3 separate regions of the Homo sapiens genome follow, and regions 2 and 3 are each linked to region 1. Evidence: fine-mapped expression QTL. A gene starts in region 1. Each other region holds a variant in brackets. All regions are shown on one strand. Distances are between the middles of the regions.

Region 1 (10,451 bases):
CTGCCCGCCTCGGCCGCCCAAAGTGCTGGGATTACAGGCGTGAGCCACTGTGCCCGGCCACCCCTTCTTTTTTTTATAGGACAGAGAGTTATCAATCATTTGCTAACTCAAAGGTCAGGTTTAATTTACATTTTCTCCTTAGAATCTCTGGACAGGAAGTATAATTTCTGATGTCTTCACCTTAAAAGAGAATTATTGCTATAAAATAAAGCCTTTAACTTTCTGTGCTCTAGCAAGTATAGTCAAATCTCAATAATATACACTAGTGAAGTAGCAAAACAATAGTCACCAAAAACTGGATAATGTAAACATCCTTCATTCATATCTTTCTGAAATGACTACAACTTCTCAATTGACTGTGCTTTCTTTGACTTCAGGCCTTTGCTTCCTCTGCCTGGAATACCCTTCCCTGTCCTCCACTTTGCAGTCTGCTAGTTTGAAACTCCTTACCTCAACCTGCCCAGCAGCTGGGCTAACTGTTTTGGTAGACACAGGGGCTCCCTATGTTGCCCGGGCTTGTCTTGAATTCGTAGGCTCAAACAATCCTCCTGCCTCTGCGCCCAAAGTGCAGGGATTACAGGTGTGAGCCACCACACCCAGCTATACCAACCCCAACACATTTCTTACATTTCTCAGAGAACCAAGAAGTGATCTCCTAACAGCAGTGCAGGGTCACCAGCATATGAGGTCAAATTGTTACTATCTACAATATGGGTAAGATACATTGCTTGGAAGTGCCTGTTTCTGGCTTCTGGCTGGAGGCTCACTTCCCAGCCTGGCATTTATTTATGAGAAATAAAGCTCTCCTTTCCAAATAAAAAAATTTTCCATCCTGGCTAACACAGTGAAACCCCATCTCTACTAAAAATACTGAAAAATTAGCCAGGCATGGTGGAACACGCCTGTAGTGCCAGCTACTCGGGTTGCTGAGGCAGGAGAATCACTTGAACCCGGGAAGCAGAGGTTGCAGTGAGCCGAGATTGCGCCACTGCACTCCATCCTGGTGACACAGCAAGACTCCATCTTAAAAAAAAAAAAAAATTTTTCAACAGATATATTTCCAACTGTAGTAACCTAGAAAGTAACAGGGGAAAGGCTCTCTCAATTTACTCTTTATTTTTTATTTTCTTTTTTTAGATAAGGTCTCACTCTGTTGTCCGGACTGAAGTGCAGTGACGCGATCATGGCTCAATACAGCCTCCAACTCCCGGGCTCAAGTGATTCTCCCATCTCAGCCTTGCAAGTAGCTGGGACTACAGGTGCACGCCACCACACCCAGTTAATGTTTTTATTTTTTTGTAGAGACAGGGTCTCACCATGTTGCCCAGACAGGTCTCCAACACCTGGACTCAAGTGATCCTCCTGCTTCAGCCTCCCAAAATGCTGGGATTACAGGTGTGAACCACCGTGCCCAGACTACTATTACTTTAAATAAAAGAGAAATAGAAAGATAAATCTTAAGAGAGAAAAAGAAACCACTTAAAAAAAAAAGCTACGTTAGTAGGGCAATTTTTTATTTTTATTTTTTGAGACAGAGTCTCACTCTGTCTCCCAGGCTGGAGTACAGTGGCACCATCTCAGCTCACTGCAACCTCTGCCTCCCAGGTTCACATTCACATGCCTCAGCCTCCCGAGTAGCTGGGATTACAGGCACGCACCATCACGCCCAGCTAATTTGTGTGTGTGTGTGTATTTTTAGTAGAGACACAGTTTTGCCATGTTGGTCAGGCTGGTCTCGAACTCCTGACCTCAGATGGTCTACCCGCCTCACCACCTCATCCACAGTACTTGGCCAGTACGGCAACTTTAAATAGCTATAGGCCAGGCATGGTGACTCACACCAGAAATCCCAGGACTTTGGGAGGCTGAGGCAGAAGAATCACTTGAGCTCAGGAATTCAAAACCAACCTGAGCAACACAGCAAGACCTCATCTCTACTAAAAATAAAAACAAAAAAATTAGGCCGGGTGCGGTGGCTCACACCTATAATCCCAGAACTTTGGGAGGCCGGGGCAGGCAGATCACCTGAGGTCAGGAGTTCGAGGCCAGCCTGACCAACATGGAGAAACTCCGTCTCTACTAAAAATACACAATCAGCCGGGTGTGGCGGCACATGCCTGTAATCCCAGCTACTCAAGAGGCTGAGGCAGGAGAATCGCTTGAACCTGGGAGGCAGTGGTTGTGGTGAGCCAGGATCGCGCCACTGCACTCCATCCTGGGCAACAAGCGCGAAACTCTGTCTCAAAAATAAATACATAAATTAATTTAACTTAAAAATCAGCCGGCATGGTGGGCACACACCTGCAGTCCCAGTTACTGAGGAGGCTGAGGTGGGAGGATTGCTTGAGCCTGGGGGATAGAGGTGGCAGTGAGCTACGATGGAGCCACTACACTCCAGCATGGGTGACAGAGCAAGACCTTCTCTCAAAAAATAAATAAAAATTAAAAATAAAAAAATTAAACAACCATAGTATGCTTGCTGAACCAGGTAGGTTACAGAAAATAAATGTGGTCCCTGCCCCCAGAGAACATAAGAGTCTTATTGAGGAATCCTTCCCACCCCTTCCAAACCCATAAATGTAAACATCAGGGAAAAGAGGGAAGAGATTTTCTAAAACAAGAGTTAGGAACTTAAGGTAAATGCATTGGCTGTTTGGGGACAGAAAAATAGTAACTGGCTAGAAAGCCTTTTGAGTTTAAGGTAAAGCTATCCCACACATCAAAGTCCATATCAAAAGCATCAGAAGCCATGGAAAGGTGTAATCCATAACTAAGAGTCAAGAGGTTCAGCTCAAATTCTAACAGGCTGTGTAACGTTGGGCAAGTCACTTCACTCCTCTAATCCAAAAATGGCTCTTCTGTAAAATGGGCATAAGACCCTACTGGCAAAGTTGTCTGTGATGATTAAACAAGTAACGTGAAAGCACTCTGAAAGGTTTTACGTGACATACCAACTTAACATAAGAGGAAGCAACAATCATTCCTCTGTATGTAGCATAAATCCTGTGGTTCAACTTCCAAAGTCTAAACCTGACTCACCTTCTTAGCCTTGTTAAACCCCTCAACCAACCTGTGGTCACTGAGAGGAGGCGAGTCATGTGTGAGGCTCCAGGCAGGGGTGGGGCAGTGACTACTCAGTCAATTGCTCCATGTCTCAGTGGTTTCATCTATAAAATGGGTGGTGTGGAATTCACTCAGGTATCCACAAGATAATGCAGGTCTGAGGAAGGGAGTGGAGATTTTACCAAAAGTGCAGAAAACATTTACATAAACCTCCCACCCCGCCAAAGAAAAATAACCAAAGTCATCAAATATCATCAGTCCCTGGACATAAGTAGAAGGACCCTTAGAGATCATTTAATCTCTTGCTTTATAAAAGGGAGAACTGAAACCCTGACAGATGAGTTGTAGAAGTCTCAGAGCTAGACAGGGGCAGAGCTAGGACTAGGGCCCAGAGCCTCAGATTCCAAGGTCCAATGACCTCTTTGCCAGACCACAGCATCACCCAAGGTGTCTGTATGACATGTTACCAACCCCAAGACACATTACAATTTAACCAACGTCCAAACGTGGGCTACCGAAGGGAGAAACTGTTAAGACTCTCGGGGAAGGAGGGAGGCTAAGAGCTGGGGAAGCTGGGAAAGGGAAGGCTTCACTGAGGAGGTGCACTAAGTCCCAGGAGTACATAACAGGAAATTATGGAAATATTTCAGTAGGTAGTCTTGGAAAGAAAGACCTGACAGATAAAATTTTCTCTAGAGAAAAGAAATAAGTTAGATTTAAAAGACCAGAAGAAGGCTTTGTTTGAACATTCCTTGATTATATGCAATTTAGTCCTTTTGTTGTCACCTGAGTTTCTAACACTTGGTAATATTTTTAATTCCCTCATCTATTCTGTCTCCCTATGAGACAGGACTCTCTGCAGAGACCACATCCAGTTTAGTGGTTAAGAATGGAGTCTCTGGACTCAGATTGCCTAAATTCAAATCCTTGCTTTACCACTTAATAGCTGTGTGACCTTGGATAAATTCCTTCACTAATCTGTACCTCTGTAAAACTGACCTAATATCACCACCCATTTCAGGAGGTTTTGTGAGGATTAAATGTGTATAAGCGGTCACAACTTATTAATGGGTTTTTAATCACTTTATAATGTGTCCTTTTTATATATAAAGAATAGAAATTACCCAAGTACATATACTGCATGTAGTAACAAATATTGTTTTGCAAAAATTTTGTTACATATGTGTGCATAAATGTCTTAAATCATAATGTAAAATTTGTTTCTTAGTGGTTTTTTTAAAAATGTGAGACACTGAATACATAAAATAAGGCTTAGAACAATGCCCAGCACACAGTAAGCACCTAGTGCTGTAACTGTCATCGTTGCTGTTATGTACCTATTAAATGTTCGTAGAGTTATATAAACTAACATGAAACCACTTTGGAAAATATATCTGATAGTAACATAAGTTAAAGGCAAAAAGCCCTTCTCTTTGTCTCTCATATCCACACACAATCAGAGCCCTGCTCAGGCACCAGTTTGTTGCTTGGCCCACTAGCTACGTGTTGCATTGAACTGAAGAGTCCACAGACTGACCTAACACTCTGTCATGCTCTGTCAATCTCTGCAGAGAAATGGAGGCTTGGTGCCAGAGCGAATTTATTTTTACCTGGTTGGGGTGCTGGGGTGGGGGAGGCAAGAGTCAAGCCCATGGGGAGCTGACGGAAGCAAGTCAGTCATACAAAAAACCATTTGCTCCCCCAGAGGCAGGTAGGCTCAAATGTGCCACAGACAGGGCCAGACCGACAGACACCTGAGCCTCTGGGCAGGCTGAATCACTTCCCCCTCCCTATCCTCACCAGACACTGCATAAGACAGCATTTCAGCCCGCCCGCCCGTTACAGGTGTAGCTCTTATCAGGAAAAGCTGGGAGCTGCCTGATACAAAAAGGGGCTGACTGCACAACAAAAGATTACCTGAAGGGCTCATTTAAATGACAAGCTCACCTAAACGTTTTAAATAGTATTTAAATTCCAAAACCCTGATTTACAGAAAAACCTGGAAAATGTGCTCACCAGTAAGGAAATCTGGAGGTCCATCCCCGACATTGTGTGACCTTGAATTAAGCACTTCATCTTTATGTTTGTCTTCCTCTGTTTAAAAGAGAGAGAGAGAGAGAGAGATAAGAACACCTACCTCAGAGGACCATGGTAAAAATTAAAGATAGAATACGGTGAACTGCCTTGCATCGGATGTGCTGGCACTGGCCAATGCACAATAAACGCCTGTCCCTTCTAGACTAAAAATGAACACTTAATTGTGGTAAACTATTAATAAGATTCACCGGCCAACTGTCCTATGAAAAAGTCAGAGGCACTGTAGTCTCTTCGTAGCTCTCGTTCTCTCCAGCACAACAGCCCATGCTAGGAAGTCTAGAAAAGCAGTAACTTATCTCATTCCTTAAATTAAACAGAGGTTTCTAAATGCTTTGGTACTGTGGGGACCCAAATTATCCCTTGATACTGCCCCCCTATTATCCACTATTAAGCTTTAAAAAGGCGAGAGATTAAATATTGTGCCCACATTTTACAGTCATTCGCGTTCCCGTTTCAAATTAAAGGGAGGAAAACGCGTTAAAATTAGGCCTCCGACCTTCAGACCAGCCTGTGGGCTTTTTTAAGTCATAAAACTCGCGGAGGTGGAAGGCCCCGGGGAGGAAGAGGGGTGCATTCTAGAGCTTTCGGGCCGACCCCAATTTCTCGTTGGCGACGAATGCTAACCACGTGTCGCCATTTTGTGTTCAGGAAACATGGCGGCCGCCCCAAGGGTAAGGAACAGGGGAGGCGGAGTAGCGCCACGTTAGCCGCTTTCCCTGAGAGATTGTGAAGCACGTTGCGCACGGGGCCCTTTCTGGTCTGGCTTAGCCCAAGGAGGAAGGGGAAAAGGCAGAAATCACAACTCATAGGCCAGCGTCTTGAGCGACACTTCCTCAGCGGGAAGAACCGGCAAAAAAGGCCTTCCAAGATGGCGGGCCCTGACGGGGCCGCCCCCCTTGAGCCTGGCGCAGTGGCTGCGCCCATGGGCCCGAAAAGCAGCCGCGGGAGCCCAGGCCGCGCGGGGAAAGCCGCAGAAACGTCCTGAAGCCCTGGCCGGCAGCCCCTGAACAAACGAGGCCTCCACAGGCGTACACTATTGTTTCTAATGTCGGAAAAGGGTGCCGCGGTGGAAACGACACAAGGGCAGGAGGTGGGGTTTCTGTGGCTTTAACCGAAAGAAACTTGCGAAACGCAAACAAAGCATTATGTAAATGGACGCCATTCTTTTTAGGACCACGTTTCTAGCACGCCCCACAAACAGCAGAGCCGCGATTCGGCAGGCGGCCGTGAGTGGGTTTCGGTCTTTCTGCCCACCGGCCGCCGCCGGGGAGCAGGAGCTGGGGTGGGGGATCCATGCAGGGCGCCCGGACGCCGGGGACGAAAGGGCCCCACGTGCCCGCCCGCGCGCACCCGCTCCGCAGGCCTCGCCTCGCCGCCCCTCCCCCCCGGAAGAGGGCTGCTGCCCCTCCCATCCCCCCACACCCTCGCGCACGCGCTCTGGTCACCTCACGCGCATGTTTTAAACCCGCGGCGTCCCGGCTTGTGCCTGCAGTTTCCGCCGGGGCTGCCCATGTCGTTCCGCGCACGAGCCCCTCATGTAGGGCAGGAAAATAATGTCTATCCCGCATACACAGCACTAGTATTTTCAGTCACCCGCCAGTGCCGTTAGAGTTAATAAAATACGTCATCATTTTAAAACTTTGCCGGACTCACAGCTTCCGCCCATCGTGCGCTTCATTTTCACTACTGCAGTGTCAGAAGGTTTTTTTTTTAAGGACCATGTAAGGGTTGGCGCAATCTTGTGACCTAAAAAAGACGGGTCCTCATTTTTTTTCAAGGGGTCCTGCGCAGCAAGCACTTCCGGGGTCAGAGGGTACGCGGGGTTGAAAGCGGGCTTCCCGCCCCGCCCAGACCGCCGAGGCTGCCGCCGGAGTCGCCACCGCCGCGCCCTCGCCCACCCGCCCGCCCGCCGCTCCCGGCCCCGCTCGCCCCCTCCGCCGCCGCCGCCCGCCCCTGCGACTACGCTGCGGCCTCCCGCCCGCTCCCGCTCGCTCCCGCGGCCCTCGCTCGCCTCGCGCCGGCAGTTTTGGGCCTACACCTCCCCTCCCCCCGCCAGCCGCCAAAGACTTGACCACGTAACGAGCCCAACTCCCCCGAACGCCGCCCGCCGCTCGCCATGGATGCCGGTGTGACTGAAAGTGGACTAAATGTGACTCTCACCATTCGGCTTCTTATGCACGGAAAGGAAGTAGGAAGCATCATTGGGAAGAAAGGGGAGTCGGTTAAGAGGATCCGCGAGGAGAGTGGCGCGCGGATCAACATCTCGGAGGGGAATTGTCCGGAGAGAATCATCACTCTGACCGGCCCCACCAATGCCATCTTTAAGGCTTTCGCTATGATCATCGACAAGCTGGAGGAAGATATCAACAGCTCCATGACCAACAGTACCGCGGCCAGCAGGCCCCCGGTCACCCTGAGGCTGGTGGTGCCGGCCACCCAGTGCGGCTCCCTGATTGGGAAAGGCGGGTGTAAGATCAAAGAGATCCGCGAGAGTACGGGGGCGCAGGTCCAGGTGGCGGGGGATATGCTGCCCAACTCCACCGAGCGGGCCATCACCATCGCTGGCGTGCCGCAGTCTGTCACCGAGTGTGTCAAGCAGATTTGCCTGGTCATGCTGGAGACGCTCTCCCAGTCTCCGCAAGGGAGAGTCATGACCATTCCGTACCAGCCCATGCCGGCCAGCTCCCCAGTCATCTGCGCGGGCGGCCAAGATCGGTGCAGCGACGCTGCGGGCTACCCCCATGCCACCCATGACCTGGAGGGACCACCTCTAGATGCCTACTCGATTCAAGGACAACACACCATTTCTCCGCTCGATCTGGCCAAGCTGAACCAGGTGGCAAGACAACAGTCTCACTTTGCCATGATGCACGGCGGGACCGGATTCGCCGGAATTGACTCCAGCTCTCCAGAGGTGAAAGGCTATTGGGCAAGTTTGGATGCATCTACTCAAACCACCCATGAACTCACCATTCCAAATAACTTAATTGGCTGCATAATCGGGCGCCAAGGCGCCAACATTAATGAGATCCGCCAGATGTCCGGGGCCCAGATCAAAATTGCCAACCCAGTGGAAGGCTCCTCTGGTAGGCAGGTTACTATCACTGGCTCTGCTGCCAGTATTAGTCTGGCCCAGTATCTAATCAATGCCAGGCTTTCCTCTGAGAAGGGCATGGGGTGCAGCTAGAACAGTGTAGGTTCCCTCAATAACCCCTTTCTGCTGTTCTCCCATGATCCAACTGTGTAATTTCTGGTCAGTGATTCCAGGTTTTAAATAATTTGTAAGTGTTCAGTTTCTACACAACTTTATCATCCGCTAAGAATTTAAAAATCACATTCTCTGTTCAGCTGTTAATGCTGGGATCCATATTTAGTTTTATAAGCTTTTCCCTGTTTTTAGTTTTGTTTTGGGTTTTTTGGCTCATGAATTTTATTTCTGTTTGTCGATAAGAAATGTAAGAGTGGAATGTTAATAAATTTCAGTTTAGTTCTGTAATGTCAAGAATTTAAGAATTAAAAAACGGATTGGTTAAAAAATGCTTCATATTTGAAAAAGCTGGGAATTGCTGTCTTAAACTCTTTGTTGGTGCCTTTTTTTTCCCTCCCCTTTTAGCCTGAGGTGTTTGGAGGGAGGAGGGAGAAGGGTGGGCCCGTCCTTGGTATTCTCTCAAGCTCTTCTCACCTTATCGGTAAGATTCCATTCCCTCTGTGCCCCAACAAAGGAACATGGCAGGCTGGGCCTGCTTTGGGATGTTTCCAGGGACAGAGAGGTTCAAGTTCCAGAGAGAGGCCTCTGCCCATTTCTCTGGTAGAAACAAGGTTTTCTCGAGGGGAAAAGGTGTGCCCACTCAGTAGGACCTCTAAATGGCAGAGCGTCCTCTCCATCTAACCAGTTCCCCCACCCCCACCTCACAGGATAAACTTAGGAACAAAAAAATATTCTGGGGTGGGAGGAGCCTGGGGAAGGGGTGTGGGGGCAGGGAAAGGAAAGGAAGGGAGGGCAGTGGGCCGGGGAGGATTGGGGGCTTGGAGGAGGGCAACAGCTGCCGGGTGGTGGTGGGACTAGAGGGGTCTTGGTTGGGCAGCAGGGGTGGGAAGGGGGGAGGGGACGGTACCAACGAGACGCACGTGTCAAGCATGCACCTGTGGCAAGCAGCCTGTCAGAGGATGTTATTACACCTGCCAAGTGGTGTATCCAGAAACAAAAGAGGCCCAGTTTCCAATTCTTCAGCTGTGTGCAATGTTTAGAGAATCCCTATACCAGGAAATAATCCTGCCTAAATGGGTCAGTCTTCACAAGGCGGGAATGTAGACTGATGCACTGACTATAACCTAAGAATGATCTGAGTGTTAAAGATGCAGATTCCTCTGTCCCACCCCAAAACTAATCAGCTGTATTTTTAACAAACACCCCAAAGGAGTCTTAGATTTGAATGCCACTGATTGTCTTCAGTGGAGGAGGAAGATCCCGCTGTGAAGGCCGTAGCACCCTCACGCCCACGTCAGCCAATAGGACTATCCCTGACCTGATGAGAGAAGGAAAACTGCTAGGCAAAGGCAACATTAGAAACAATAGTATGAGAAAATAGAGCCTGAGATGAGGGAAAGAAGAAACAATAGTATCAGACAATAGACCAGTAGGTGCCAAAGTGGGTAGTTCAAACCCCAGGCACTATGGGAGATCACTCATGGCAAAGAGAAGTTCCTGTGGGAGGGGAGTATTATCCACAGTAAATATTCGTTGAGGCTTATTATGTGGTCACGCAGGGTTAGGCAAGCAGTCACTGAAAGGAGCCCAAATTCTGGAGTTAGACTTGCTTTCAAATTTGAGTTCTGCCTCCTATTCATGGCTTTGGACAAATTAATCTCTATAAATGAAGATGTTAAAATTAACACCTTCTGGGCTTGTGAAAATAAAATGAAAGCATGTATATAAAACAGAACAGTGCTTAGAACACAGTAAATTTCAGTGTACTCGATTATAAAAAGCCAAAAGGCCCATTTCTGGGGGCTGAGGGTTGGCCACAAAATCTGGGCAGAGAAGACAGATGATTAAAAGGTAGGAAACAAAGCAATGTGTATTAAATGAGTTGGACTGAGAGGCCAAGACAGGTGGGGAGGGAGGGGGACCTAGTGAAGACCCAGAAGTGGGTACCATGCCTTCTGGGAACAATAAGCACAAATCCAAATCAAGGCAAGAGGGGATATAAGCTTGAACCCTCAAACACCAAGCCAAATAGTCTTTGAAGAATCCCTGAAATGCTGGGTGAAGCAGTTTGAATGCCCTATGA
Region 2 (10,451 bases), 75 kb before region 1:
TTTCTTGTTTTCTAATTCATTAACTTCTTTTATCTTAATTTGCTCCAGTTCCTTCTTGTCAGCTTATTTTTTGTTGTCTTGCTTCTTGAGTGTCCAACTTGCTCAGTTAAATTCTATCTGGTTTAATAATAAAGCATTTAATTCCAAGCATTTTTCTTTGAGAATAGCTGAGCCACATTTAGTAAACTTTGTAGTGTCTTCAACATCCTTAATTTCTCCATAGCTTGTGACTGCATGTAGAGAATGACAATCTATCCCACTACCCACCCCCAAACTTCACTAGCCATTCTCCTGTTCTTTGAGAGGGAAATTCGCATCTACTCATTGTTTATAAAAAGCTTTTTGTAAATACACCTTCAAGCCACTTCCCTTCAACCCAGATACCACCCACCCCTCAGCCCCTGTTTACATAGAGACTCAGGAGCCATGGGGGAGAGCCATGTGCTGGGCACTGTCTGCCCTTCGATAGCCCAGGGTTTCTCAATGTTAGCACTATTGACACTTTGAGCTGGATAATTCTTTGTGGCCAGGCTGTCCTGTGCATTGTAGGATGTTTGGCAGCATCCTGGCCTCTTTCTACCCACTAGATGCCAGTAGAATATGTGCACATGCACATGCCCATGCCCATGTGCGCACACACACATACACCCCAAGTTGTGACGACTAAAAATATCTCCAGACATTGCCAGGTGTCCTGTGCTGGGGCTGGGGGGTAAAACTGTCCCTGTTTGAGAACCACTGATACAGTCCTATAAAAGCCACAGCCACAGAGAAGCCAGGACACACAATCTTACCTCCCACCTCCGCAAAGGTCTGGGAGGACCAAGGCCTGGAGGTCCCACAGTGGGGCCCCCTACGGTTAGGTGTAGGAGCTGCAAATGAGGAGGCAAAGGAGGCCAATTCTGTTTCCTTAGGTGGGTGTAAATCTTCCCTCTTGCAGATGGAAAGAAAATGGGATCTAGGTGGCTTCTAGCTGGGAGGTACCTTCAAACTTAGGAGACCAAGAGGGTACAGGGGCAGCCTTCTCCAGCACCCAGTGGCCTTGGCCTCGGTTAGAGGGCATAAGAGGACACCAAGACTCATGGGAGCCCAGTCCAGCCCAGAGGGAAGAGGGCCAGATAGGATTCAGAGCTGAAGCCCTGGCCAAAGCAGAGAGAACACCCTTACTTCATAGAGCCTCAGGGTACAAGAACATCAGCAGCCCCTCTGTTCTCAGGAAGCAAGTGGGATCTGTACTTGGTCATAAAAAGAAGCCCATTACCCTTTACATAAAATAACATCCTGATCATTTAGCGCTATTAATGTGTAAAATGCACATACCCTTGACCTAGCAGGTACATTGCTATGAGTGTATTTTATGGCTATACCAGCACAAGTGCTCGGGGTCTACAGAGGGGCTGTGGCATACTAATCCAGAGTGCAGCCTTGGGTTGGGGCCTGGCTGCCTGGGTTCAAGTCCCAGATCTACCACCTACCAGGTATGTGATCTTGGGAAAGTTATTGACCTCTTTGCAACAGAGTTCCTTCATTGTGACATACAGGCAGTAAAAGGACCTATCTCTTGGGCTGCTACAAAGATTATGTAACTTACCATATTCCAACAACATAGTCTGTGGTCAATAAATGCTAGCTAAAAATCTGGGAATTTAAATGCCAATCATTGGTTAAATACATGTGACATATCCATTCTGTGAAATACTGGGTAGCCATTGAAAGAAATGAAGTAGAACGCTATCTACTTAAGCCGGGCGCAGGTTGCTCACGCCTGTAATCCCAGCACCTTGGGAGGCTGAGGCGGGTGGATCACCTGAGGTCAGGAGTCCTAGACCAGCCTAACCAACATGGAGAAACTCCGTTTCTACTTTAAAAAAATACAAAATGAGCCGGGCGTGTTGGCGCATGCCTGTAATTCCAGCTACTTGGGAGGCTGAGGCAGAATTGCTTGAACCCTGGAGGCGCAGGTTGTGGTAAGCCAAGATCGCACCATTGCACTCCGGCATGGGCAACAAGAACGAAACCCTGCCTCAAAAAAAAAAAGAACTATATCTACTTAAATAAGTAGAGCGTATTTAATAATAAGTAATAAATATGAATATATATATAATAGAAAAATTGTGCTAAATTTTATAATATAGATGATACACATGCAGAAAAGTATATATCATTTGAGCTTATTTGCATATAAAAAGAGCTATGTATAAATAGCTATGTGACTTTAACTGCACAGAAAGTTTCTAGATCCCTCAAGAAGCTCATTATATCTAGGGAGTGGGACTGGAGGACCAGGGAACTTTTGCTTTCTCCTTTGATATTGTTTTGAGTCTCCTACTATGAGTATGTATTTTTATTTATTTATTTAGCGACAAAGAGTCTCACTTTGTCACCCAGGATGGAGTGCAGTGGTGTGATCTCAGCTCACTGCAACCTCTGCCTCCTGGGTTCATGCAATTCTCGTGCCTCAGTCTCCCGAGTAGCTGGGACTACAGGTACGCTCCATCACGCCTGGCTAATTTTTGCATTTTTAGTAGCGACAGGGTTTCACTATGTTGGCCAGGCTGGTCTTGAACTCCTGACCTCAAGTGATCTGCCCACCTCAGCCTCCCAAAGTACTGGGATTATAGGCATGAGCCACCGTGCCCGGTCTATTTTTTTTTTAATAATAATATTCATCTTTTGAATGAGATAAATCTATCTCATTCATTCATTTCCGCTGCTGTGGAAAATTTTTCAAGATTTCTTATTAATTTTTTTAAGTGGCAGAATATGAGTAATATAATACAAGCCATAGGAACGAATCTCCATTCACAAATCCAGGTGTGCAAGAAATCAAATTTTAGTCTATAACTCAACTCATTGATTATGGTAAGCTTCAATCCTGACAATAGAAAACTTAATTTCAGGTATGTCTGAATTCTCCAGAATATTCAGAAGTGCCAGGCATGAGGCTGCCGATGAAGTCAGCAGAGGCCAGGTCTGGCAGCAGAGGCAGCCAGGAACCTTGGATCAGGTTGCCTGTGTCTTCACGGCCTAGTCCAACCTTGTCCAACCCACAGCCTGTGGGCCGCATGCAGCCCAGGACAGCTTTGAATGTGGCCCAATGCAAATTTGTAAACTTTCTTAAAACATTATGAAATGTTTTTGTGTGTTTTTTTTTTTTTAAGTTCATCAACTATTGTGTTAGTGTATTTTAGGTGTGGCCCAGACAATGCTTCTTCTTCCAATGTGGCCCAGGGAAGCCAAAAGACTGGACACCCCTGGCTAGCCCTACCATATGACTGCCTCCTTCTGGGATTGTAGTCCTGCCCCCAGCCAGCCTGGGGAGGACAGGGCTAAAAGGGTTGGGGTCCTTTCCACTCCCAAGGAAATCCTTCTTCCATCGTTTCCAGTCAAGGCATTCAGTCTGTGCAAGAGAATCCTCATCCTTTGATGAGCCACTCAGCAAATCCTGGAGTTGCCCTAAATGCTTAAGCTTTCAGCACACAAAAGCCAGAGATGCCTGAAGATAAATTCAGTTTTCTAACCTGAAAAGCTGCTCTGGAGGTAATGAGCTCCATAAATGTGAGGGCAGAAAAAGAGAAAATTCAGGAGAGAAAAAAATTAATTTCTCAGATACTATCCCTGCCACTCACATGTGTAAATGCAAAGCAAAAAGTGTAAACATTTCCACCAAATAATTAACAGTGCCTACCTGTATGGTAGGCTTTAGGATGGGGGAAGGGGTGCAAGAAGAGCATTTATATACTTGTCTATATATTTCCAAACTGTTTGGATTTTTAAATGATGAAGCTGTATTCAGCACTGCTTATATAATTTATTGTCTTATTTATTTATTTATTTATTTATTTATTTATTTTAGAGATGGAGTCTTGCTCTGTTGCCCAGGCTGGAGTGCAGTGGCACGATCTTGGCTCACTGCAACCTCCGCCTCCTGGGTTCAAGCGATTCTCCTGCCTCAGCCTCCCGAGTAGCTGGGATTACAGGCATGCACCACCATGCCCAGCTAATTTTTGTATTTTTTAGTGGAGGCAGGGTTTACCATGTTGGCCAGGCTGGTCTCAAACTCCTGGCTTCAGGTGATCCACCCGCCTCGGCCTCCCAAAGTGCTGGGATTACAGGCGTGAGCCACCACACCTGGCCATAACTTACTATCTTAAATAAATAAATACCCACACATCCTTTGCCTCCAGGGGGACAATGCAGGCCACATCTGTCTAGTTGGCTGGTGGGCAGACCTTTGGGAAGCCTATTTTCATGAGGGGTAGAAAGGTTCTGAAGGAAATAACTCTTTCTAAGGGAAGAAGGAAAACAGGCACAACAAGCTGACCCAGAGACAGTTGCGTTCAACAGCAAGAACTGATTCTGGGCTGGACTGGTATTTGTAATTTAGATGTATCTGTAGGGCGAAGCCCCACGGCTCTATAAGGCAATGCAGGGACCAGCAGCCCCACAGCACTGCTGCTATAGGAGTGTCCGTGACTCCCAGCAGGTATGGGGTGCCTGATGGGTGTGGCCGTGTCCAGCAAAACTGATAGCTACATGGGGTGTGGTAGGGGCAAAGGGAAGTCACAGAGCTGGAGGAGGGGAAAAGACGAAAAGGTAATGGTAATTGTCTAACCTTGTCCACTAGCACAGGAGAGTCACACACCCTGGGGATGCCCAAAATGCTCATGGGATGAGGGTATGTGAACTAGACAGGGGTCTAGTTCCCACACTGTCAAGTAGGGGCACGGGAGATACACAAGTGGAAAAGCTCTAAGGACGTGATAAGGGCACAAGAGTCCAGGTGTGTGTACAGGTGGGAAGCACAAGAGAGGGAGCCACAAAGTCTACAGGGGAGGGGCCAGGAAGGTCTCCTGAACAGCTGACGTGGGGTGATTCACAGTTGGATAGATAGGCAGTAGGGATTTGCGTGGCAAGGGTGGAGGGCACAAGGAACTGCATGTGCAAAGGCCTGGAGCTGAGAGAGTGAGCAAGCAGCGTTGGGGGGAACTGAAAGCAGTTCAAGCTGATGACAATGAATACAGGGGAGTGGCAGACAACGAGGCCACAAAGGTTGTGTTTCATGATAAGGAATTTGGACTTGATCCTGCAGGCAGTGGTGAAGCTCACAAGAGAAGTATTTAACAGGGAAATTAAATGATCAAACTTTCCAGTAACGTTTTTCACCACAACACTCCCATCTCTTTTAGTTAACTCCCACCCAGGCTGCAGTCTGAACATGAGAGCTGCTTCCTCCAGGAAGTGCTCCCTGAACACCCTCAGACTCAGCCCTCAGTCAAAACTTCTAGGGGTTCCCAAGCACCTCTGCCATCTTTCCCCACTGCACTGGGTCCTAATGACCTGTGCCCTGTCCTTTTCTCTCCTCCTTCATATGCTGTGAGTGCTGGAGGTCAGGACAGTATCTGTTATGTCCTATGTTGTATTCCCACAGCCTGCACAGAGCCTGGTATGGTAAGTACTCGATATGTATTTACTTAATGAAAAACACATTATCCTTAGCAAACTAATGCAGGAACAGAAAACCAACTACCACATGTTCTCACTTACAAGTGGGAGCTAAATGATGAGAACTCATGAACACAGAGGGGAGCAATACACACTGGGACCTCCTTGAGGGTGGAGGGTGGGGGGTGTGGGAAAAGGGAAAGGAGCAAAAAAAATAACTCTTGGGTACTAGGCTTAGTACCTGAGTGATGAAATAATCTGTACAACAAACCCCTGTGACACGAGTTTAACTATATAACAAACTTGCACATGTACCCCTGAACCTAAATTAAAAGTTAAAAAAAAAAAGTGTGAGAAGATAACTC[T/C]TGTGGTTTCCAACCAGAACTGTAGAGTACAGGTTGAAAACAGGGGGCAGGGGGCCAGGGAGAAGACCCTTGCAATCGTTTAGGTGAGAAGGGATGAGCGCCTGAGCTGAGGCAGTGGTGGTGGGGCTGGAGAGCAGGGAGAGATTGGGAAAATGTTTAGGAGGCAGAACTGATAGGCCAGGTGAGCAGATGAGGGAAGGGAGGGAGCCAGATAAGGGGAGGAGGACTCCTGGGATTCTGGCTTAAGCATTTGAGCAGATGATGGATTAACCAAGACTGTCTATTCTGGAAGAGGAAGCAATGTGTAGGGGAAGACGAAGAAACCAGTTTAGACATGCTGACTTTGACTTGCCTGTAAAGCATATAGGTGGAAAGGTCTCAGGTGGAACCACAAAACTGGAGCCCGGGACAGACATCTGGATTGAAGATAGAGATTTGGGAGCTGTCAGCCTGCAGGTGATGGTTAAAGACCAGGGAGGAAATAAGATCATCCAGGGAAAGGAGGAGGAGACGAAACAAGAAGAATGCCAACCTGTAAAGAGTGAGGGGAAGAGGAGCCACGGAGAGAAAGGGAGGCATGAGAGAGGGAGGAAAAGCAGGAGCTGAAAGCAGCATCACCGCTAAGGGAGAAGCAGCTTCGGGGGCTAGCAAACAGGGTCCAACAGTGTGAAGAAACAGAGCCTGCCCAGGCCTCCCTTTACAACTGAGGAAAATGAGGCCGAGGGAGGCTGATGGAGGGTGCTGGAGGCATGTGCTATTAGTACCCATGGTCGTATAGGCCATGGCTCTCAAATTATGATCCCTGGACTCCTGGGTCCCCAAGACCCTTCCCGGGGGATCCAAGAGATCAACATCATTTTTTTTTTTTTTTGAGATGAGTCTCGCTCTGTGGCCCAGGGTGGAGTGCAGTAGTGCAATCTCGGCTCACTGCAAGCTCCGCCTCCCGGGTTCATGCCATGCTCCTGCCTCAGCCTCCCGAGTAGCTGGGACTACAGGCACCCGCCACCACGCCCGGCTAATTTTTTGTATTTTTAGTAGAGACAGGGTTTTACCGTGTTCGCCAGAATGGTCTCAATCTCCCAACCTCATGATCCGCCCACCTCGGCCTCCCAAAGTGCTGGGATTACAGGCGTGAGCCACCGCGCCCGGCCAAGGTCAACATCATTTTTATAATAATACCAAGAGTTTTTCTGCAGCATTCACTTTGCGGACATTTGCACTGATGATGCAAAAGCAACAGTATTTGGTGCCTTCTAGAGCCTTAAGTCAATGAAGAGGCACCAAACTGCACCAGGAGTCACAGTCTTCACCCCCATGTACTTGCAGTTCAACAGAAAGGCAAACTTAATGTAAAAATGTCCATGATAGAGTAATAATTATTAATTTTATTAAAACTTATCCCTTGAATACATGTCTTATTAATACTCTGTACACAAAGCACTTCTGCTGAATACCTAAGTACTGGAAGCACTTACCTGATTGTTTGAATTACAAGCTGACTACTTGCTTTTTCATAGAACATCATTTTTATTAGGAAAAAAATGACTAACAAACTATGATTATTCAGACTTGGGTATTTGGCAAACATTTTCTCAAAAATGAATTAAGTGAACCTGTCACCTCATAGAAAACAACTGACAGTATTTGTTGCCAACTGTAAAATTTGAGCTGTCAAGTGAAGATTTAAAATTTTGGAAAATGTGTATCCATGCTGGTAGATACCTAAAGACTTCTTAACACCTCAAGACTTTTCTGATGAAATCAGTGGTAACACTGACAAATATGTTTTTGATATTATAGACTGAAATGTGCCTACATTTAGAAGATGTGAATAATTCACTGAACCATCATTTTCAAAATGACGAATGCATGATGTTACAAAATCAGGCATGAATAAAAGACCCATTCAAAGTGCAAGATAGAGCAATGAAGTTTAATATAGAAAAGTATGAGTTCACTGATATGGATTCAACTAATTTTTTACACACATTACAACTAATTTTTCAGAAACTGCCATTTGTCTAATTTTGATGACATAACAAAGAAGAGTATCCACCATGATCTAAAAAGGTTATTAAAATACTATTTTTTCCAACTCCAAATCTGTATGTAGCTGGATTTCCTTCATCTACTTCAATCAAAACAACATACACAACAGACTGAATACAAAAACAGATACGAGAATCCAACTATCTTCTATTAAGCCAAACATTAAAGAGAGTTGCAAAACTATAAAATGATACTACTATTATCTACATTTTTTTGTTGTTTTAGAGAAGACAGCTGTTTTTATAAAAAGTATGTTGGCCTGGTGCAGTGGCTCATGCCCGTAATCCCAGCACTTTGGGAGGCCAAGGTGGGTGGATCACTTGAAGTCTGGAGTTCAAGACCAGCCTGGCCAATACGGTGAAACCCCATCTCTACAAAAATTAGCCGGGTGTGGTGGTGAGCACCTGTAATCCCAGCTACTCAGGAGGCTGAGGCATGAGAATCACTTGAGCCTGGGAGGCGAAGACTACAGTGAGCTGCAATCGCACCACTGCACTCCAGCCTGGGCAAAAGAGTGAAACTCCGTCTCAAAACAAACAAACAAACAAACAAAAAAACAGTATGTTCACATGTAATGGATTCATTGTTGTTACTTTTAAATCATCAGTTTCTAATATGGCATTTTTCCAAAATACTAATTTTAATGTTTATCATATTTCAGACATGGTAAATATTGTTAAAACCACTAAATAAAAGTTATTTGGGGTTGTCTATAATTTTTAAGAGTGTAGAAGAGCATATCATTGGATTTGTCAATGATTTCTTGAATATAACACCCAAGGCACAGGCAACAAAAGAAAAAATAGATATATTGGACCTCATGAAAATTAAACACTTTTTTGCATCAAACAGCACTTTCAGCAGAGTAAAAAAGGTGATGCACAGAATGGGGGAAAATATTTGAAAAGCATATCTCTAGTATGGCTTAACATTGAGGATACATAGAGAAATTTAAATATTCCACAACAGAAAAACCAAACAACCCCATTCAAAAAAGGGCAAAGGAATTGAACAGACATTTCTCCAAAGAAGATATACAAGCACAATAAGCCCACAAAAAGATGCTAGAAATCATAAAAAGCATGGGGAAAAAAAAGGAGACATATGGGACTACATCAAACTTAAAAATTTCTGTGCAACAGAGGATACAATTAGGAGTGAAAAGGCAGCCGGGTGCAGTGGCTCACACCTGTAATCCTAACACTTTGGGAGGCTGAGGCAGACAAATCACTTGAGCCTAGGAGTTCAAGAACAGCCTGGGTAATATGGTGAAATCTCATCTCTACAAAAAATAAAAAATTAGCCAGATGTGGTGACATGTGTCTATAGTCCCAGCTATTTGGGAGGCTGAGGTGGGAGCATCCCTTGAGCCAGGAAGGTCGAGACTGCAGTGAGCCACATTCACGCCATTGTACTCCAGTGATAATAGAGCAAGACCTTGTCTCAAAAAAAAAAAAAAAAAAAAAAGAAAAAGAAAAAGAGTGAAAAGACAACCCACAGAATGGGAAAAAACATTTGCAAATCTTATATCTGAAAAGGATTTACTATCCAGAATATATTTTTAAAATTCCTACAACTCAACAACAAAGGGCAAATGCCTTCATTTTTAAAATGGGTAAAGGACTTTGAATAGTCTCCAAAGAAGGGACACAAATGGCCAACAATCATATGTAAAGATGCTCAACATCACTAATCATTAGAGAAATGCAAATCAAAACCACAAAGAATTATCACCTCACACCCATTAGGTTGGATACTATCAAAAATTTAAAAACAGACCCAACTATATGTGGCCTATGAAGATTAACTTCACATTTAAGAACACACATAGAATGAAAGTGAAAGGCTAGAAAAAGACATTTCAGGCAAATGGAAACCAAAGAGAGCAGGGGTAGCTATACTTAAAACAGACTAAGTAAAAACTGTAAAACAAGACAAAGAACATCATTACATAATGACAGAGGATCAATTTATCAAGACAATATAACAACTGTAAATATACAGCTGACCCTTGAACAACACGGGTTTGAACTGCACAGGTCCACTTATATGCAGATTTTTTCCAACCAAATGAGGATCAAAAATACAGTACTCACAGGATGGGAAACCCATGTACATGGAGGGCCAACTTTTCATATACAGAGGTTTCGCAGGGCAACTGTGGGACTTGAATGGTGCAGCTTTTGTTACACACAGAGGTACTGGAAGCAATCCCACACCAAGGGACAACTGTAAATACATCCAACATCAAAGCTTCTAGATACATAAGGCAAATATCAATACATCTAGAGAGAGAGAGATTATAATACAATAATAGTAGGGGACTTTAGGCCAGGTGTGGTGGCTCACACCTGTAACCCCAGCACTTTGGGAGGCTGACGTGGGCAGATCACTGGAACTCAAGGGTTCAAGACCAGCCTGGCCAACATGGCGAAATCACATCTCTACTAAAAATACAAAAATTAGCTGGACATGGTGGCTCCCACCTGTAATCTCAGCTACTCAGGAGGCTGAGGGAGGAGAATCACTCGAACCCGGGAGGAGGAGGTTTCAGTGAGCCGAGATTTTGCCACTGCACTCCAGCCTGGGTGA
Region 3 (10,451 bases), 110 kb before region 1:
TGAGGTTGGGAGTGGGACTTGTAACACAGGTCTCCAGACAGCTTTGGGGACATTAAGTCACTTTTGACAAACACCCCTGCAATTAGTGAAATATTCAGGCAATCAAAACATTCAGATTGGGTAATCTCCAACTACAAGTGGGCTTCTAATGACACCAGGAAACTTGGCTTAGAGCTGAACACATAGAGGGCTTCTGTCCAACTTAAATACCTCAAAGGCAGCTTTGAACTAATCTGGAAATAGTTTGAATTGTCTCTAATGATAACTAGTATTGTGAGCAATTAAAACCTATCAAATATCCTCAGCACAGGAAGTTGTGTCTTTTCAATCAACTGCCAACCTAGCTTTGCTCCTAACATACAGAAGATGGGGGGCGGCGACAGAGAGGGGGTACCTTCCCTCTGGCATGTCAAAGTGATCCAGAAGATGTGGGAGAGGCAGGAGAGAGAGAAACGGAAAAACAGCAGAGCCCTTACATGTATAGAAATCTCCAGGTGGCTGGGCGCACCATCCACACACATGTATTGAGCACCTACTGTGTGCCAGACACCATGCTCGTGGCTGTAAATCAGTGTCAGGCACTCAGAGAGTCTGTGCCATAGACAGGAATGGACAATGCCAAATAGGTGGGTTGATTCAATTCCATACATACTTACTGAGGCCAACACCGCCTCACTTGGAGAGATGAATCAGACCTGCGCCCTACCCTCACAGAGTTCACAGATAAGTAAGAGAGACAGACTCCAACCTAGCTACTCAGGGATGAGCATAGGAGGTGCGGGGCACACTGGAGTCTTCCGGGCAAGATGGCAGCCCAAGGAGCCTCAGGCAACTCCCGCAACCAGGTATCAGCCAGTATCACCAGAGAAAAACAAACATGAAAGGAATATTACAGGGGAAACATGCAGTAGCCCTGAAACCAGGGAACAAGGGCATCCACAGACCAAAATCTTGGATTAATTTTTGTTGCTAAAGGCAAACCATCTGAGCGGGGGATGTGGATAGTGAAGGCCCTGAGAATGAGTTAGTGCATGTGGACGCACAGGATAGGATGCCTCGGAGAGATTGGGATAGTCTCTGGGTAAAATGGAAACAGTGTCTATGAACACAGAAAAAAGACTAGGAAGAAAGACACCAAAACAATGACAGTGGTTATTTTGGGGTAGTAGAATCATGAATGATCTTAACTTTCTTCTACAGATATTCTGTAAATATATCCTCTAATAAGAAAAAGTTATTTCAAATTAAGAAAACTTGTTCTTGCCATTTTCTGTAAGCTTAAAATTATTTCCAAATAGGCCAGGCATGGTGGCTCATGCCTGTAATCCCAACACTTTGGGAGGCTGAGGTGGGTGGATCACCTGAGGTCAGGAGTTCCAGACCAGCCTGGCCAACATGGTGAAACCCTGGCTCTACTAAAAATTACAAAAATTAGTTGGGCGTGGTGGCGCATGCCTGTAGTCCTGGCTATTTGGTAGGTTGAGGCAGGAGAATTGCTTGAACCCAGAAGGCGAAGGTTGCAGTGAGCTAAGATAGAGCCACTGCACTCCAGCCTGGGTGACAGAGCAAGACTCTGTCTCAAAAAAATAAAAAATAAAAATAATTTCCAAATAAAGTTTTTTAATAGGGAATAAATAGGAAACTTCTGTACCTTTCACTCAGTTTTGCTGTGAAATCTAAAACTACTCTAAAAATAAAGTCTATTAAAATTTTAAGTTTTTTAAAAGGTGCTTTAAAAACTGGTACATCGACCAGGCATGGTGGCTCACACTTGTAATTCCAGCACTTTGGGAGGCCAAGGTGGGTAGATCGCTTGAGGCCAGGAGTTCAAGGCCAACATGAAAACACCCTGTCTCTACTAAAAAGACAAAAATTAGCAGAGGATGGTGGCACATGCCTGTAGTCCCAGCTACTTGGGAGGATGAAGTAGGAGAATCACTTGAACCCAGGAGGTGGAGGTCGTGGTGAGCCGAGATTGCACCACTGCACTCCAGCCTGGATGACACAGTGAGACCCTGTCTTGGAAAGCAAACAAACACAAAAAAAACTGGTCCATAAAATAAGATTGGCAATATTAATTATTGTTAAAGCTAGAAAATAGATCTAAGAGGGTTTATTTGAGTTTCTCACCACTTTGGGGTGTGTTTGAAAATTTCCCATAGTAAAAAGTAAATAATAAGTAAGCAAAGGCTGTGCCAAGACCCTCCCCAGCCTGGTCTGCCCAGCTCTTGGCCCACTCCTGGGCCGTCTGCATGGGCCTGAGTCTTGGGCACTGGAACCCCTGGTCGCTGGGGACAAGCAGTCCCGACTGTGGCTCAGTGTCCCTGGTCTGTGTGGCGGCTGCTGAACGGACTCTCCCCTGCAGCATGGGCGTCTCCCAGGGCAGCCGCTCCAGCCTTGCACCCTCCCGCCTCGTGTCATGTACACTCTTTTCCTGAATCTCCAAATTCTCACTCTCCGTGGGTTCCCTGCCTTTATCCAAATTAGCACTCATGAGACTTTCACATCTTAAAAAAGAAAACCCTCACATGATCCTGTATCTCCTTGGTCAATGACCACTTGTTGCCTTCCTTGACAGGCAGTTTCTAGAAGGGTTGGTCCACACTCACAGGGCCAAGGTGCACAGATGCCCCACTGTGGGGCAGGTGGAGGCTGAGGCATAGCCTGCACTCCTCTTGCCAAGCCTATGTGCCAGAACGAGGGGTTGAATCTGCCTGGAGGAAGGGGTGCCCCTTTCTAATTTGCACACGGTGTGGCATGGTCCGAGGCAGCCCGCTTACACTCTGCCTCATGGTGTTACCTCCATTCACACACAAAGCCTCACCGCCCTCTGCCGTCAGCCTTGCCAGGGACATTGGCGGTTCCCCGAGGCTGCAGTCTGGCCCTCTCAGCCTCAAGGACTCTGGCCTTCTGAAGCCCTCGCACTGCTGTTTTCCTCCTAGGTCTTCTCTGCGCCTTTGGTTTCTGTATCCCAAGTTTCTGGGTCTTCTGCCACTACGACCACTCCCCTCTGTCCTTTGTGGGTTCCTCTCTCCCTGGATACTCACAGATGTGGCTCCCTGAGGCTCTGTCTACAGGCCATTCCCCCTCATTCCACACACTCTCCAGGCCAGGGACACCCCTCTCTGCACCGCTTACCCATCCTCTCCCCACTGCCCCAGCTGCCCACCTTACATGTCTGCCTACGAGTCCACTTTCAACAGTGAACATGCTGTCTTCTCACCAGACACCCTCTGCCTCCTGTGTTTTTTGTTTGTTTCGTCACCTAGGCTGAAATGCCATGGCTCCCTGAAGCCTTGACCTCCCGGGCTGAAGCAATCCTCCCACCTCAGCTCCAGTTCCACCTTAGAGGGGATCAGAGGTGCACACCACCACATCTGCCTAATTCTCTTAAATTTTTTTTTTTTTTTGGTAAAGACAGGGTCTCCCTACATTGCCCAGGCTGGTCTCTAACTCCTGGGCTCAAGCAATCCTCCCGCCTTGGCCTCCCAAAGTGCCAGGATTACAGGCATGAGCCACCACACCTGGCTCTCTGTGTTCTTTATCTGGCAATGGCACTACTATCTAGCCAGCCCTCGGAGTCACAGACACAGGGGGCTTCCTCACCTCCACCCCTTTCTCACGGCCCCACCTGGACTGCTGGGTCGCCAGTGCCCTCAGCTCCTCCTCCTGAGTCTCTCTCCTGCCTCCATGCCTCTTCACACCCTGGCCTCAGGGCACCCTGCTGAGGTCGGTAGTCATCCTACAGGACTCCTTGCCTCCTGCCTCCTCTCCATTAATCCACCCTCCTCAGGCCACCAGAGTCATCTTCCAAAGATGTAAGTCTGCTCATGCCATTCTGCTCAAAATTCCTCCATGGCTCTTCATCCCAAAATAAAATCTTGACACCCAACAAGACTCACGAAGTCCCCCTCCCTAGTTCATGCTCTACCTATACAAAATGGCGTGTAGCTCCCCAAACAGGACGGGCTTTCTCATACCTTTTCACAAGCCACTCAGCCAGATGAGCCCTCTGACACCCCTGTTCTCCTGGCAAACACTGAGAAGTCAACTAAGACACTACCACCTCCAGGAAGTCTCCTTTGATTTCCCTAGCAAACTCAGGGTCTCCCTCCTCTAAGGTGCTATCATAAGGGACTGCCAGGCCCAGCTCCTCTCTGAGTTGCAGCACTGGTACAGTCTAAACATGAAAGTCCCGGTGTTTCTTGGCCTTTGGTCTCATCCACAACCTGCACATCCTCCAGCCCAGGCTGTCCTCACCTTTTTCCCATGAAGCATTGCCTGATCTTCCTCAGCAATTGCTTCTGCCTCGATGGCTTTGAATATCAGGCCTGGCAGTGCTCTTTAACTGCAGATGAGCAGCATTCAAAGTTGCCTTTTTTTGGCCGGGCACAGTGGCTCATGCCTGTAATCCCAACACTTTGGAAGGCCGAGGCGGGCAGATCACCTGAGGTCAGGAGTTCGAGACCAGCCTGGCCAACATGGTGAAACCCTGTCTCTACTAAAAATACAAAAATTTGCCAAGTGTGGTGGTGGGCACCTGCAATCCCAGCTACTTGGGAGGCTGAGGCAGGAGAATTGCTTGAACCTGGGAGGTGGAGGTTGCAGTGAGCTGAGATCATGTCACTGGACTCCAGCTTGGGTGACAGAGTAAGACTCTGCCTCAAAAAAAAAAAGTTGCTTTTTTTTACTGTACTCATAGTAAGAAAGACATTTTTCATCATAATCCAGTACACATATCCATGAAGATATATGTAGCTAAAACAAAATGTATTTACTATGTGTAATATACTCTGATATTTTCTATTTGGGGCCACTTCTTTTTTAACTCTTTTAATGACACTGAAAACTAATCTCCCAACCCACTAATTGATCCCCACCCACCATTTGGAAAACTGCTATAGCCAGCAGGGATGACTAAGGGCTCCCAGCAAGGGATCAATGTGATTAGAATAGAACGTTAGGACCCTGCCTCTCAAATGTTCTAAGGCGCAGGATCGTTTTGTAAATTTCCAATCTGTCACATACTTTACTATTTAAAAACACAATAAGAATGAATTATCTGAAGGTAAAATAACAAAGATATTTAAAAATGCAAGTCTAGATTCATTATAATTAGATTCAACAGACAGTGCGGGGTGCTAAGAGCATCAGGTGCAAGAATGTTTGGGGAGGCCGGAGATGTGAGGCGGCTTTGCCAGCCTTAGGATGCCCACAAGCCCTTGACATGTAGCCA[A/C]GCCAGCCCTGCCAATCTCCGTCCTGGAGCATTTGAACTTGCATCATCTGGGGGAGCTTTGCTGAGGAGAAAGGTGCCTCTGCGCAGTCTTTGGCCTTGTCAAGAGGGCCAGGCTGCCTAAATTCAACTCCTGACTCAGCCACTAACTGGCTGCAAGCTGTGGACAAATGACTTAATTCTTTCAAGCCTTGGTTTCCTCCTAGGATTGTCCTGGGAGATTATTCAAGCAATCCGTACCATGGGGCTTAGCCAGTACTGCACCTGGTTACACTCGACCCTCTTGCTTTCATGGCTGTGATTCGGTTGCTGTCTTCTAGGTTTTCTTTACCATTTTTTTTTTTTGAGACGGAGTCTCACACTGTCACCCAGGCTGGAGTGCAGTGGCGCGATCTCGGCTCACTGCAACCTCCGCCTCCCGGGTTCAAGAGATTCTCCTGCCTCAGCCTCCCCAGTCGCTGAGATTATAGGCGCCCACCACCACGCCTGGCTAATTTTTTGTATTTTTAGTAGACATGGAGTTTCACTATGTTGGTCAGGCTGGTCTCCAACTCTTGACCTCGTGATCCTCCTGCCTCAGCCTCCCAAAGTTATGGGATTACAGATGTGAGCCACCGTGCCCGGCCCTTTTTTTTTTTTTCAAGATGGAGTCTTGCTCTGTCGCCCAGGCTGGAGTGCAGTGGCGTGATCTCGGCTCACTGCAACGTCTGTCTCCCAGGTTCAAGTGATTCTCCTGCCTCAGCTTCCCAAGTAGCTGGGATTACAGGCTCCCGCCACCATGCCCGGCTATTTTTTGTAATTTTAGTAGAGACGGGGTTTCACCACGTTCGCAGGACTGATCTGGAACTCCTGACCTCAGGTGATCTGCCTGCCTCAGCCTCCTAAAGTGCTGGGATTACAGGCGTGAGCCATTCGCCGGGCCTGCCGTCCTCTCGGTTTTCATGAGTGTTCTGCAGTCCTCCTTACTCTTCCTCGTCCTCCCTGGTCCCTTTTCTTGGCCCCACACTGACTACTCTACTCAGGCCAAACCTTCACCCTTCCTCACTTCTCCACCTCCTGCTTGCAGAAGATGGCTTGCGTCCTGCTTGGCAGAGAAATGGCGAGCTCTCACTCCACCCTATCCCAGGTTTTCTTCACTTCTCATCCCTTTTCAGGGACTCTGTGCCTGGCCAGGCTAATCCTTCCACCTGAGGCCCCCTCCAACCTCCTCAGTAGCCTCTTTCCATCAGCCATTCCCACCCTCTTCTGGGAATCTTTCCAGAGTCAAATCTCTGGCCACTCCTCAGACTAAGGCAACCTGCCCAGTAGTATGCTGGTAGATGTTTAATTAACAATGAGCTCTCTGGGGAAAATGCATGCATATATACACATACATACATTTATGATAAATTTTATTGACATAAAGGATGGCTAATAATTTACAAATAATAAAAAATATATACTACTCTTTACTGTAAATTGCATATGGCCAGTTGGGTCTTACAGGATGCTTTCATTGATTTTTGCCAACCTGCTGAATCTATAACCAGCCTACAGTTGTAACTGATAAATGAATGTAGTTCCAACATGAATGTTAACTGATATTTTTGTTTGTACCAACTAGCAAGAAAAAAGTGAAGCCAGAAAGACAGATGTTGGAACTTCACTTGTTGTTTTTTTTTTACAGAATGGGTTGCCCAGAACTTGGAGTGCAGTGGAATGTTCATAGCTCACTGTAACCACAAACGCCTGGGCTCAAGAGATCCTCCTGCCTCAGATAGTGCACACCACGCCCAGCTAACTTTTTTATTTTTTGTAGAGAACTGGTTTAGTTATATTGCCCAGGCTGGTCTTGGACTCCTGGCCTCGAGCAATCCTCCCGCCTGGACCTCCCAAAGTGCTGGGATCACAGGCAAGAGCCACTGCACCTGGCCAGAACTTTACTTGTTTGTCAATGGTGTTAGCAATTTCTTTACTGAAGCAGAGAATAGTTTTTGAATACTGGAAGAATATTTCCTTCATTTTTCTGTGCCATTCACAATGCAATGGCCATTGGCAAAACATACATTTAAGTTTAATGTGCATTATTAGCATTTTCTCCATAACCTTCTTAAGTCTAGATAGTCAACCAAATAATGAATAAAGCCCTGATTTGTGGTGGTTGCTGCCCACTTCTGTGGTGTAAATATTCCCACTGTGGCTGATTTCAATCCACCAATATGATGTCACTGAATGCAGACTTGGGGAAAAAGCACAGTAACACAACATTATATAGTATTTCCACAGATGTAATAGATGTACATAATCTTAAAAGAATAAAGAATAATAAAATATAAAATTATTGCCAGGCATGGTGGCTCATGCCTGTAATCCCAACACTTTGGGAGACCGAGGCGGGCAGATCACCTGACGTCAGGAGTTCGAGACCAGCCTGACCAACAAGGAGAAACTCTGTCTCTAATAACAATACAAAATTAGCCAGGCATGGTGGTGCATGCCTGTTTTCCCAGCTACTCAGGAGGCTGAGGCAGGAGAATCCCTTGGACCTGGGAGGCGGAGGTTGCAATGAGCTGAGATCGTGCCATTGCACTCCAGCCTGAGCAACAAGAGTGAAACTCCATCTCAAAAAAAAAAAAATTATTAGGAAGTGATGGTTTTTGAAAATTTATTATTTTTGCCTTAATATAATTCATTTAATTGTAAGTTTATATAATTTAATTTATAATTTAATTTTTCATAATAGCTGGGTTTAACCATTGGTTCATGAAATTCCTGAAGATTTAACAATCAGCTCATAGGAACTGGTATGATCTGAGCACACCTGGATCTGAACCCCAAGCCCAGCTCTTCCTTGAGCAGGGCCCTCAAAAGGCTCTCCAAAACCTGATGGCCCTGCCCAATGTATATTTTTCAGATCTATCAGCGAAACTGAACTCATTTTCTTTCTCTCCAGTCTGCTCCTCTGTGGGCTGCCATGTTGGTGGAGGGCTTCGCCATTCACCCTGGGGTGGCAGGAGTTGTGGATGAGAACTCTGGACAGGAAGAAGGCTGGGATCAGAGGATGGGGATTTTGGAATTGTTTAGAGCAGAGGTGAAATAGTTTTGGGTAATGACAATGTTGGGTGGGTGAAGAGTCCCTGGGCTGAGGAGGGCACAGAACCGTAAGGCTAGGCTGTTCCTGGAGGTCGGGGTATGGGCTGATGGCATGTTCACACTCCTGTTACATCTTCTGTCAACTAGCTTCCCTGCAACAAGCTGTGTCTGACAGTCCTCCAGAGCTCCTGGGGCAGGGGTCCCAGAGCCGACTGTGGGTCACACGCGACAAACTCCCACACCCATATTCCTCTGGGATTGCTCCAGGCTAAGGTTGGATTCTCAGGCAGGAGGAAGGAGGATCAGCCTTGGCCAGAGGCACAGAAAGCTGCAAAGCCCCCAGCCCCTCCCTTGAAGGGCAGAGCTCCTTTTGAGGACAGAGAAGATCTGGAGGGGATGTGGAGGCAGGTGTTTAACAGAGGACTTGAATGTATCTGGGATTTCCATGGCAGTGATGCCTGGACGGAGGCCAGAGTGTCCTAGGTGAAGTGGGGGATTCTGAATGGAGCCCACAGACAGCAAGAGCCCAGCCTGCAACCCACCTTTCCTTTCACGTCACCTGACTCCCTGTCCGCACTGCTGCCCCTCGGCCTCCCTGCCGGTGCTGCTCCTCCCCCGAGAAGCTTCCCTGCCTCCTCCCATGTACTTCAGGGAACTGGTAAGTTTGGAAAGCACCCAGAATTACTTGAGGAAAAGACTGTAGCAAGTACAATTTGAATTTGCCAAGAGACTTTGCCACCAAATTCACTTGCCTAGAGAGAGAGGCGAAGTCCATGGGTTTCTCCCTGTGGTTCTGTGGCTTCACCGGGAAAATGTGGGCCTTGCTGAGCTATGGAGGGGAAAGGAAAGGAGCGTGAAGGAGACAGGAGGCAGAAGCTCCTCACAGTGCCCAGCACGCAGTAGGGGCCGAGATGATGTGCTGAATGATGGGCCTCATGGCCATGTGAGTGGAAGGCCAGGCAGAGCTGCTTGTTTAATATCTCCTACTCTTTCCCCCGTGGTCAGTGAATTTGCTTTTGGTTTTGAATTTGCTTTGGCTGAACCAGGGACAATTTCTACATGGCCTTGAGGCCACAGGCATATGTAGTCAACTGCACACCTCAGGGTGCAAGGGGTTACACCTGTTCCTTGCTCAAAAGTCATGGGAAGTTGCTAAACAGACCAAAAGAAGAACCAGCACGCTTACTGCTCTCCGTCCTCCCCTTCCCCACCCCACCCCCAGCTGTTAGCTCACAGAGGGTCAAAACAGGCAAGATAAAATCTGTCCAACTCACAGCTTCAAAGGAACACAAGTTAGACATGTGACCCAACCGCACCCAGCCTTGTCCCTCCCAGGTGCATGGCCCTGGAAGGCCCAACCCTCCGGCCACGTGGTCCGTGTAGAGGCCAGGTGGGCAAAGCCTTCCGTTCCAGACCCAGTGCTGCCCTCCCATGAGATCCCAATCTGATTTTGGTCTTCTTGTAGTTCTCCTTGGAAGCCAGGCCCAGCCCCACACTGCCTCCTCCTCACGCTCACCTGGCTCCCTCCAATCCGATCTGGGGCAGGAGGCGATGCAGACCGCAGTCTTCACCGCAACCTCGACCCTGAGGGCCCAGAGTCAGTGCTGGAGCCACCTACCAGGAGTCACTTCCATAGCCCTTGAGGCTGAATGAGAGCCCTCGGGTTCTTGGATAGCAGAGAACACAACCCAGACATGGCTCTGGATATGAAACAAATCCTTTCTGAACCTGACACCAGACTTTTCCCCAGAGGTGATTTTTTAATTATTTTTTGAATGCTTTCCAGATTTGACTGAATGAATGGGTGACAATGACCCTAAGTCATGAGCCTTCAAGGCCTGTACACTTGTGGGTTAAGAAAGCCCTTTCTCAGCCTGGCATGGCTGGCCCCCTCCCTTTCCCCCTCCAGGCACAGAGTGTCCTGGTAAGGTATGATGGCACAATACAGCCTCTCCACGCCTTATTTCCACCATCTCCTGTCACTGTGCCCCCATCAAAGCACACACAGAGAGAGTCCCAAATCAGACCAACCTATAGGAACAGAGTGCCCCTGACAAAACACACACACTCATACACCGAGGAGACACAAACTGGGCAAAAATGGGACAGGCAAGGTGACTCATGCCTGTAATTCCAGCACTTTGGG

What was found. PIP is the estimated chance that this variant, and not a neighbour inherited with it, causes the effect.
Region 2: its variant is the best candidate, but not a certain one, in a credible set for the expression of PCBP1-AS1 in whole blood (TOPMed, PIP 0.79).
Region 3: its variant is the best candidate, but not a certain one, in a credible set for the expression of PCBP1-AS1 in nasal epithelium (TOPMed, PIP 0.57).

Annotation. Positions count from the first base shown.
Region 1 is chr2:70,080,468-70,090,918 of GRCh38, forward strand. It overlaps PCBP1-AS1 (PCBP1 antisense RNA 1), which reads right to left and starts at 6,548. Exons shown (of 11, transcript NR_033872.1): 1 at 6,511-6,548; 2 at 5,080-5,157; 3 at 3,071-3,220; 4 at 903-1,023. PCBP1 (poly(rC) binding protein 1) reads left to right here and starts at 7,010. Exons shown (of 1, transcript NM_006196.4): 1 at 7,010-8,736. The coding sequence starts at 7,277. The coding sequence ends at 8,347. It also overlaps a transcript of ASPRV1 not described here. RefSeq lists enhancers at 5,607-5,746, 5,887-5,976, 6,017-6,226, 7,432-8,076, 8,148-8,314 and silencers at 6,437-6,586, 7,037-7,096, 9,123-9,172, 9,263-9,352.
Region 2 is chr2:70,005,493-70,015,943 of GRCh38, forward strand. The region is part of intron 7 of PCBP1-AS1 (PCBP1 antisense RNA 1); the gene reads right to left. It also overlaps a transcript of ASPRV1 not described here. Among named protein-coding and RNA genes, the nearest start is that of ASPRV1, 49 kb to the left of the region's middle. RefSeq lists an enhancer at 5,060-5,129. The variant T/C (reference allele first, on the strand shown) is at 5,811.
Region 3 is chr2:69,966,502-69,976,952 of GRCh38, forward strand. The region is part of intron 9 of PCBP1-AS1 (PCBP1 antisense RNA 1); the gene reads right to left. It also overlaps a transcript of ASPRV1 not described here. Among named protein-coding and RNA genes, the nearest start is that of ASPRV1, 10 kb to the left of the region's middle. RefSeq lists enhancers at 5,652-6,529, 9,234-9,745, 9,746-10,256. The variant A/C (reference allele first, on the strand shown) is at 5,237.